Homo sapiens: one gene and its partner. The protein of the gene in region 1 purifies or fractionates together with the protein of each later gene. This does not show direct contact. Each region holds a gene or a part of one and is shown on either strand. Other genes may lie near its edges. The genes, in order: MLANA and GPR143.

What was found.
Region 2: the proteins of MLANA (region 1) and GPR143 purify together in Homo sapiens (co-immunoprecipitation; one study listed by IntAct). This does not show direct contact.

What each region holds. Positions count from the first base shown.
Region 1 is NC_000009.12:5,904,238-5,908,060, forward strand, and holds part of MLANA (melanoma antigen recognized by T-cells 1), read left to right. Parts: intron 1-2,647; coding exon 2,648-2,761; intron 2,762-3,823. UniProt on the Homo sapiens protein: Involved in melanosome biogenesis by ensuring the stability of GPR143. Plays a vital role in the expression, stability, trafficking, and processing of melanocyte protein PMEL, which is critical to the formation of stage II melanosomes.
Region 2 is NC_000023.11:9,759,058-9,762,880, reverse strand, and holds part of GPR143 (G-protein coupled receptor 143), read left to right. Parts: intron 1-2,054; coding exon 2,055-2,164; intron 2,165-3,454; coding exon 3,455-3,549; intron 3,550-3,823. UniProt on the Homo sapiens protein: Receptor for tyrosine, L-DOPA and dopamine.

The DNA of each region.
Region 1 (3,823 bases):
CTTGTTTGTTGATCCACTCTGACAATCTGTCTTTTAATTGGTGCATTTAGACCATTGATATTCAAAGTAGTTATTGATATAGTTGGATTGATATCTACCATATTGTTACTGTTTTCTACCTGTTGCCTCTGTTCTTTGTTTCTATTTTTGTCTTTACTCTTTTTCTGCCTTTTGTGATTTTCACTGGACATTTTATATGATTCCATTTTCTCTCCTTTCTTGGCATATCAGTTATACTTTTTTCTTTTTGAGACAGAATCTCACTCACTCTGTCGCCCAGGCTGGAGTGCAGTGGCACGATCTCAGCTCACTGCCACCTCTGCCTCCCAGGTTCAAGTGATTCTCCTGTCTCAGCCTCCTGAGTAGCTGAGATTAAAGGTGCATACTACTATGCTCATCTAATTTTTGTATTTTTAGTAGAGACGGGGTTTCATCATGTTGGCCAGGCTGGAACTCGACCTCAAGTGATCCACCCACTTGGCCTCCCAAAGTGCTAGGATTACAGGCGTGAGCCACCGCGCCCAGTCCAGTTACACTTCTTTTTTTTTTTTTTTGAGACGGAGTCTCACTCCGTTGCCCAGGCTGGAGTGCAGTGGTATGATCTGGGCTCACTGCAAGCTCTGCCTCCTGGGTTCATGCCATTCTCCTGACTCAGCCTCCCAAGTAGCTGGGACTACAGGTGCCCGCTACCATGCCTGGCTAATTTTTTGTATTTATAGTAGAGATGTCATTTCACTGTGTTAGCCAGGATGGTCTCAATCTCCTGACCTCGTGATCCACACGCCTTGACCTCCCAAAGTGCTGCGATTACAGGTGTGAGCCACCGTGCCCGGCCTTATACTTCTTTTTTACTTTTTTTCAGTGGTTTCCCTAGAGTTTGCAACATACATTTACAACTAATTCAAATCCACTTTCAAATAACACTATACCATTTCATAGGCATTATGAGTATCTTAAAATAATCCTAATTCCTTCCTCCTGTAAACTAAAAACAAAATCCTAAATCCTCCAAACAACTGAATGGACCCCCTCTTCACCAAGGGGACCCCAGGGAAACCTGAAAAACTGAGTGTTGGCCATGACGGGAAGGGAGGTGAGAGATGCCTCATTATACTCCCTCCCTTTTAGAGTTTTAGGTACAACTGACCAGCATTAATTTTAAAATAGAGATTACAGGACTGACAGAATGAACTCTTTGTGGCAATATCAAATTAGGAACAAGACAATGCAAGGAAAGGGTTAAATCATGCCCTTCAAACCATAAAAAAATTTTTTTTTAATTAACCCCATATAATGTGGTATACTTTCCAAACTGACTCTGGTATAGCATCACATGACAGATTGCAGACTCCCTTACCTTAAGCATTCCTTTATACTGACTTCAAGTCTTAAGACAGAGCTGAACTCTTTCAACCAGCTGCTAACTAAAGAATACCTAAAACCCACCTGTGACTTGTAAGTCTCTGCTTTGCCATGTCCTGCCTTTTCAGGCTGACCCAATGTATACCTTCCGTGTATTGATTTATGATTTTTACCTACAATTCCTGTCTTCCTGAAACATATAAAACCAAATCATAACCCAACCACCTCAGGCACACTTTCTCAGGACCTCTTGAGACTATTCTCCCGGCCATGGTCATTCATATCGGCACAGAATAAACCTCTTTAAAATATTTTGCAGTTTTTTTCTTTCTGTTAACATTCCTTTCCCTTGTATCATTGCTGTTATTAATTTCAAGTATATATAAGCATACCTAATTAAATACATTGTTGCTATTATTCATTTTTGAACAAACTATTATCTGTTAAATCAACTAAGAATAAGACAAATATGTTGGGTGCAGTGGTGCATGCCTATAGTCTCAGCTACTCAGAGGCTGAGGCAGGAGGATTGCTTGAGCTCAGGAGTTTAAGACCAGCCTAGGCAACTTAGCAAGATCATGTCTCTTAAAAAAAAAAAAAGAAAGAAAGAAAAACAAAGTTTTAGGAGGCTGAGGCAGGAGTATCACTTGAACCCAGGACGCAGAGGTTGCAGTGAGCCGAGATCGTGCCATTATACTCCAGCCTGGGCAACAGAGTGAGACTCTGTCTCAAAAAAAAAAAAAGAAAAGAAAAGAAAAGAAAAAAAAAGTTTTTATTTTACCTTCACTTATTCCTTCTTGGATGTTCTTCCTTTATGTAGGTACAAGGTTCTGACCTATGTTATTTTCTTTTTCTCTAAAGAACTTCAAAAGTTTCCTGCAAGGCAGGTCTACTGGCAATGAATTCCCTCAATTTTTGCTTGACAAAGTCTTTATTTCTGCTTCACTATTGATGGATAATTTCACAAGAGTGTTCCTTTTGTAGATTCACTCTTCTTATCCTTCCCTTCAGAAATATTCTTTGACCAACTATTGGGTCCCAGGTACTGCACTAGAGCTTTACTTCTAGTTAATTCCCACAGCAATTCTGAGAGGTAGGTAGGTATTATATTCCTAGATGCAAACTCAGAATTCAGAAGGTAAAGTGATGAGACTGAAGGCACACAGCAAGTAAGTGGCAGAACCTAGATTAAAACTCATTCTTAAAACTTTGGCTTCCTTCTCTTTTCTTTAATGGATTCAGTTACTTCTTCTCACCCACTCACCTTTATCAATTTACATTTCAGGATAAAAGTCTTCATGTTGGCACTCAATGTGCCTTAACAAGAAGATGCCCACAAGAAGGGTTTGATCATCGGGACAGCAAAGTGTCTCTTCAAGAGAAAAACTGTGAACCTGTGGTAGGTTAAGATCCTTCATAAGGGTATTTTCATGAATGGCTGTTTTTAACTCAAGTGAATACAATTATTTCCATTTAAAAAGCAAGGACAATGTGAATGTACTCATTGCCACTGAACTATATACACCTAAAAATGGTTAAAATGGCAACTTTTATGTGTATTTTATGAGAATAAAAAATAAATAATAATAAAAAACAAGGGAAGTACAGATATTTTCTTAATTGTGTTGTCACATACCCAGTGTTTCCAGGGTCAATAATGAGAGCCCTACATGTAAGATTCAAAGGAAGAATTTAGTCCTGGATACAATATTCTTTTATGTTTTTAGTTATATTTGCCTTTTTAATGGATGCAGATATATACAGAGGGAAGGGATAAAGTACCTATTATTTATTGTATAGAGCTGTGCTGTCTGATGGCTTAGCCACTAGTCACATGGTGCTATTGAACACTTAAAACACAGGAGTTTGAAATAAGATGTATTATAATACATATCATATTTCAAAAATATTAGTATGTAGAAAAGAAGATAAATGGTTCATTAATGATTTTTATATTGATTCACCTTGAAATAAATATTCTGAAAATATTAGGTTAAACAAAATATTTTAAGATTAATTTTACATGTTTCTTCTTTTAAATGTAGCTACTAGAAATTTTAAAATTACATATGGCTGGGCATGGTGGCTCACACCTGTAATCCCAGCACTTCGGGAGGCCGAGGTGGGTGGATCACCTGATCTCAGGAGCTCGAGACCAGCCTGGCAAACATGGTGAAATCCTATCTTTACTAAAAATACAAAAATTAGCCAAGCGTGGTGGTGCATGCCTGTAATCCCAGCTACTTGGGACGCTGAGGCAGGAGAATCACTTGAACCCGGGAGGTGGAGGTTGCAGTGAGCCGAGATAGTGCCACTGCACTCCAGCCTGGGAGACAAGAGCAAAACTCCATCTCAAAAATAAATAAATAAAATAAAATTACATAAGTGGCTTGTACCATATTTCTATTGGACAGCACTAGTACATATACAACACAGCATAATGGTTGAGAGCACTGACTCT
Region 2 (3,823 bases), on another chromosome or scaffold:
AGTGGATGAGGTTGCGAGCAAATAAGCAGAAGTCAGGAAAAGGCTGGGTGATCGGGACCCCTTACTGAAAAATAAGAAATTTCAATGCCCATGGGATAGGGCTTTTATTAAGCTCAAAGGAGTGATAAATGCTGAAAATTCTAAGGCACCGTACAGAAGAAAGGCATTGTTTTTGTTGGCAGTGGCTTGATAATGAGAAGATGTCTTGAGCTTTTTAGTGTTCACAGTTGTCGTTTAGTAGTGTATTACATAGTGTGTGTTTAGTGGTATATTACATGGTATGTGTTTAGTAGTATATTACGTAGCATTTGTTTAGTGGTGTATCGCATGGTGTGTGTTGCATATTATATGGTGTGATTTTAGTAGTGTATTGCACAGTGTGTGTTTAGTGGTGTATGGCATGTTTACCAGTGAGCACTACTACATAGTATGTAGCTTGGTGTTGTTTACAGTTCTCCCCTTTATATTACCTAGCATACTTTTTTTTTTCTCAGATGGAGTCTCACTCTGTCGCCCAGGCTGGAGTGCAGTGGTACAGTCTTGGCTCACTGCAACCTCCACCTCCCAGGTTCAAGCGATTCTTGTGCCTCAGCCTCCTGAGCAGCTGGGATTATAGGTGCCCACCACCGTGCCTGGCTAATTTTTGTATTTTTAGTAGAGATGTGGTTTCCCCATGTTGGCTAGGCTGGTCTTAAACTCCTGACCTCAGGTGATCCACCCACCTCAGCCTCCCAAAGTGCTGGGATTACAGGCGTGAGCCACCATGCCAGGCTCTTTACTTTTCTTTTCTTTTTGACACAGGGTCTCACTCTGTCGCCCAGGCTGGAGTACAGTGGTGCGATCTCGACTCACTGCAACCTCCGCCTTCCGGGCTCAAGCGATTCTCCCACCTCAGCCTCCTGAGTAGCTGGGACCACAGGCGCGTGCCACCACCTCCAGCTAATTATTGTATTTTTGTAGAGATGGGGTTTTGCCAGGCTGGTGTCATCTCCTGGGCTCAAGTGATCCGCCGGCCTTGGCCTCCCAAAGTGCTGGGATTACAGGCGTGAGCACCGCGCTCAGACCCTAGTGTACTTTTAAACAACGGATATTGCATTACCTAACAAAGAACCATAATATGTACCATGAGTGTGCATACTGTTTTGAGGATATTAGACATTTGGGTCTAATAGCAAGAGAAACTCACAAAGAATAAATGTTAAAGGCAAATTATTGAGAATTAATTTGTGAAAATTTTAAATGTTGTGTTTAAAAAAGAATGAAGGAACTATATATTCAAACTTCTAAATTGTGCTTTTTGAAAAATTCTTTTTTATGTGAGGAATAACTAATATGGCCACTGAAAATGCAGCCGAGAAATCCAGATTGCTAGTCACATATTGCAAGTAAACCAACAGACAAACAAAATAGGGATGAGACTGTGGCCAACTATGGTTTGCGTTAAAGTGCCTGCGTTTGTTTTGCTACCATAAGTTATTTTCTGAGTTTCAGGCCAGGCGCGGTGGCTCACGCCTGTCATCCCACTTTGGGAGACCAAGGCGGACAGATCACTTGAGGTCAGGAGTTTGAGACCAGCCTGGCCAACATGGTGATACCCCGTCTCTACTAAAAATACAAAAATTAGCTGGGCGTGGTTGTGGGTGCCTGTAATCCCAGCCACTCGGGAGGCTGAGGCAGGAGAATTACTTAAACCTGGGAGGCGGAATTTGCAGTGAGCAGGGTTTTTACCACTGTACTGCAGCCTGGGTGACAGAGCCAGACTCCGTCTCAAAAAAAAAGATAAATAAAAAATAAAAATAAAAAAAAGTTATTTTATGAGTTTCAATCTTCTTTTTCTCTCTCTGCACACACAAATATGTATGTTTTTTCTTCCTTTCTTCCTTTTCCCTCCTTGTCTTTTTCCCTCCCTCTCTCCCTCCCTCCTTTCCTTCCTTCCTTCTTCCTTCCTCTCTTCCTATCTCTATCTATTATGTATCTATCATTTTTCCAAAGCAAGAAGTCAGCTTTATATTTGATTAGGATCAGATACAAAGTATTATCCAATTCTCTCTTAGGTATGGTGATCCGGTCCACCGTGTGGTTAGGATTCCCAAATTTTGTTGACAGCGTCTCGGATATGAACCACACGGAAATTTGGCCTGCTGCTTTCTGCGTGGGGAGTGCGGTGAGTCCACCCCCTCTGCATGCCCTCTCCTCCCTACTTATGCTCCTCAAATCGCAGCAGCAGCAAACCCTGGGAGTCTGTTAGAAATGCAGGTTCTCACGTCCTGCCCCATCCTGCTGATCAGGAACCCAGCCCTCTCTGTTTTAACAAAACCCTCCAGGGGATGCTGCCCAGACACTCAAGTGTTGTTTCTCCCACCTCTTCACAAATGCATCCTCCGCTTACATGGGGCCACGAGCAAAACCAGCTGGCACAGAAAAAGTTATCAATCCATTGGATGCATTTTGTATAAATATATACATAAATATATTAAATAAAACATACAAGCCGGGCACGGCAGCCCACACCTGTAATCCCAGCACTTTGGGAGGCCAAGGCAGGTGGATCACTTGAGGCCAGGAGTTCCAGACCACCCTGGTCAACAGGGTGAAACCCCGTCTCTACTAAAAATACAAAAATTAGCTCGGCGTGGTGGTGTGTGCCCATGGTCCTAGCTACTCAGGTGGCTAAGACAGGAGAATTGCTTCAACCCGGGAGGCGGAGGTTGCAGTGAGCCAAGATCGCGCCACTGCACTCCAGCCTGGGTGACAGAGTGAAACTCCATCTTCAAAGAAAAAAAATAAAACCACATAATTATATATAAACAAATTATTGAAAAAGTAAATAGATATCATATATACACAGACACACATACACATGTATGTTATGCTCCATCCGTCACGGTGGTGCTCAGGTGAGTGATTTGAAGCACATTCCCTGATGCTGTGTTGATTGCCCTGTGCTGGAGCAGAATTGCCAGTTTCCTTGCTTCCCTGTCCTCAGTGGCTTCCTAACTGCATCTATGGAGGCTCTGTCTCAGCCCGCAGTGGCGAGACATCTTGACCTTGTGTCGTTTCTAACACTGGAGTCCCCTTACTCCATCTTCTCTTTGGAAGGACTGCCTGAGTCCCTCCTCCCCGTACTCATTCTTCCTCAGAACAAGAGCTTCTATCTAGTTCAAAGCCCCCTTGAGCCTGCACCTCAGTTTAAATGACATATCTTGGAACTTCATCCTCCCTGCATACAAGTGGAGCAGAAGGCATAGTTCCTTAGTCAAATCTGAATGCCTACACCTATCCCAGGCCACACCCTCCTTGGTCCCAGGAACTGTGCCCACTTGTGTCCCGAGAGCTGTCACGTGCGGCTTCCTGACGTCAGAGGAAGCCAGTGTCTACCCTGCCGTCTCAAGGATGGGCTGGGCTTCTTGTACCTGTTTCCAGACATTTTGATGCAGGCTCTTCCCGATTGCAGATGTGGATCCAGCTGTTGTACAGTGCCTGCTTCTGGTGGCTGTTTTGCTATGCAGTGGATGCTTATCTGGTGATCCGGAGATCGGCAGGACTGAGGTATTCACCGAGGAAATGGGATTTCTGCCCTAGTTCTATTTTAGAGGGAAGATAAGAGATGGCACTGAGCGTTTAAAAGTATTTTGCAGTGTTGCAGACACCGTCATTCAGAATCTGTCAGCTGGCCCCTCCGCCTAGAAACATCCACAGCAGCTCATTTTTATAAGAGGCCAAAGGCACATTTAAAATATTAGCCAGGCACAGTGGCTTGTGCCTGTAATCCCAGCTACTTGGGAGGTAGGAGGATTGCATGAGGCCAGGAGTTTGAGACCAG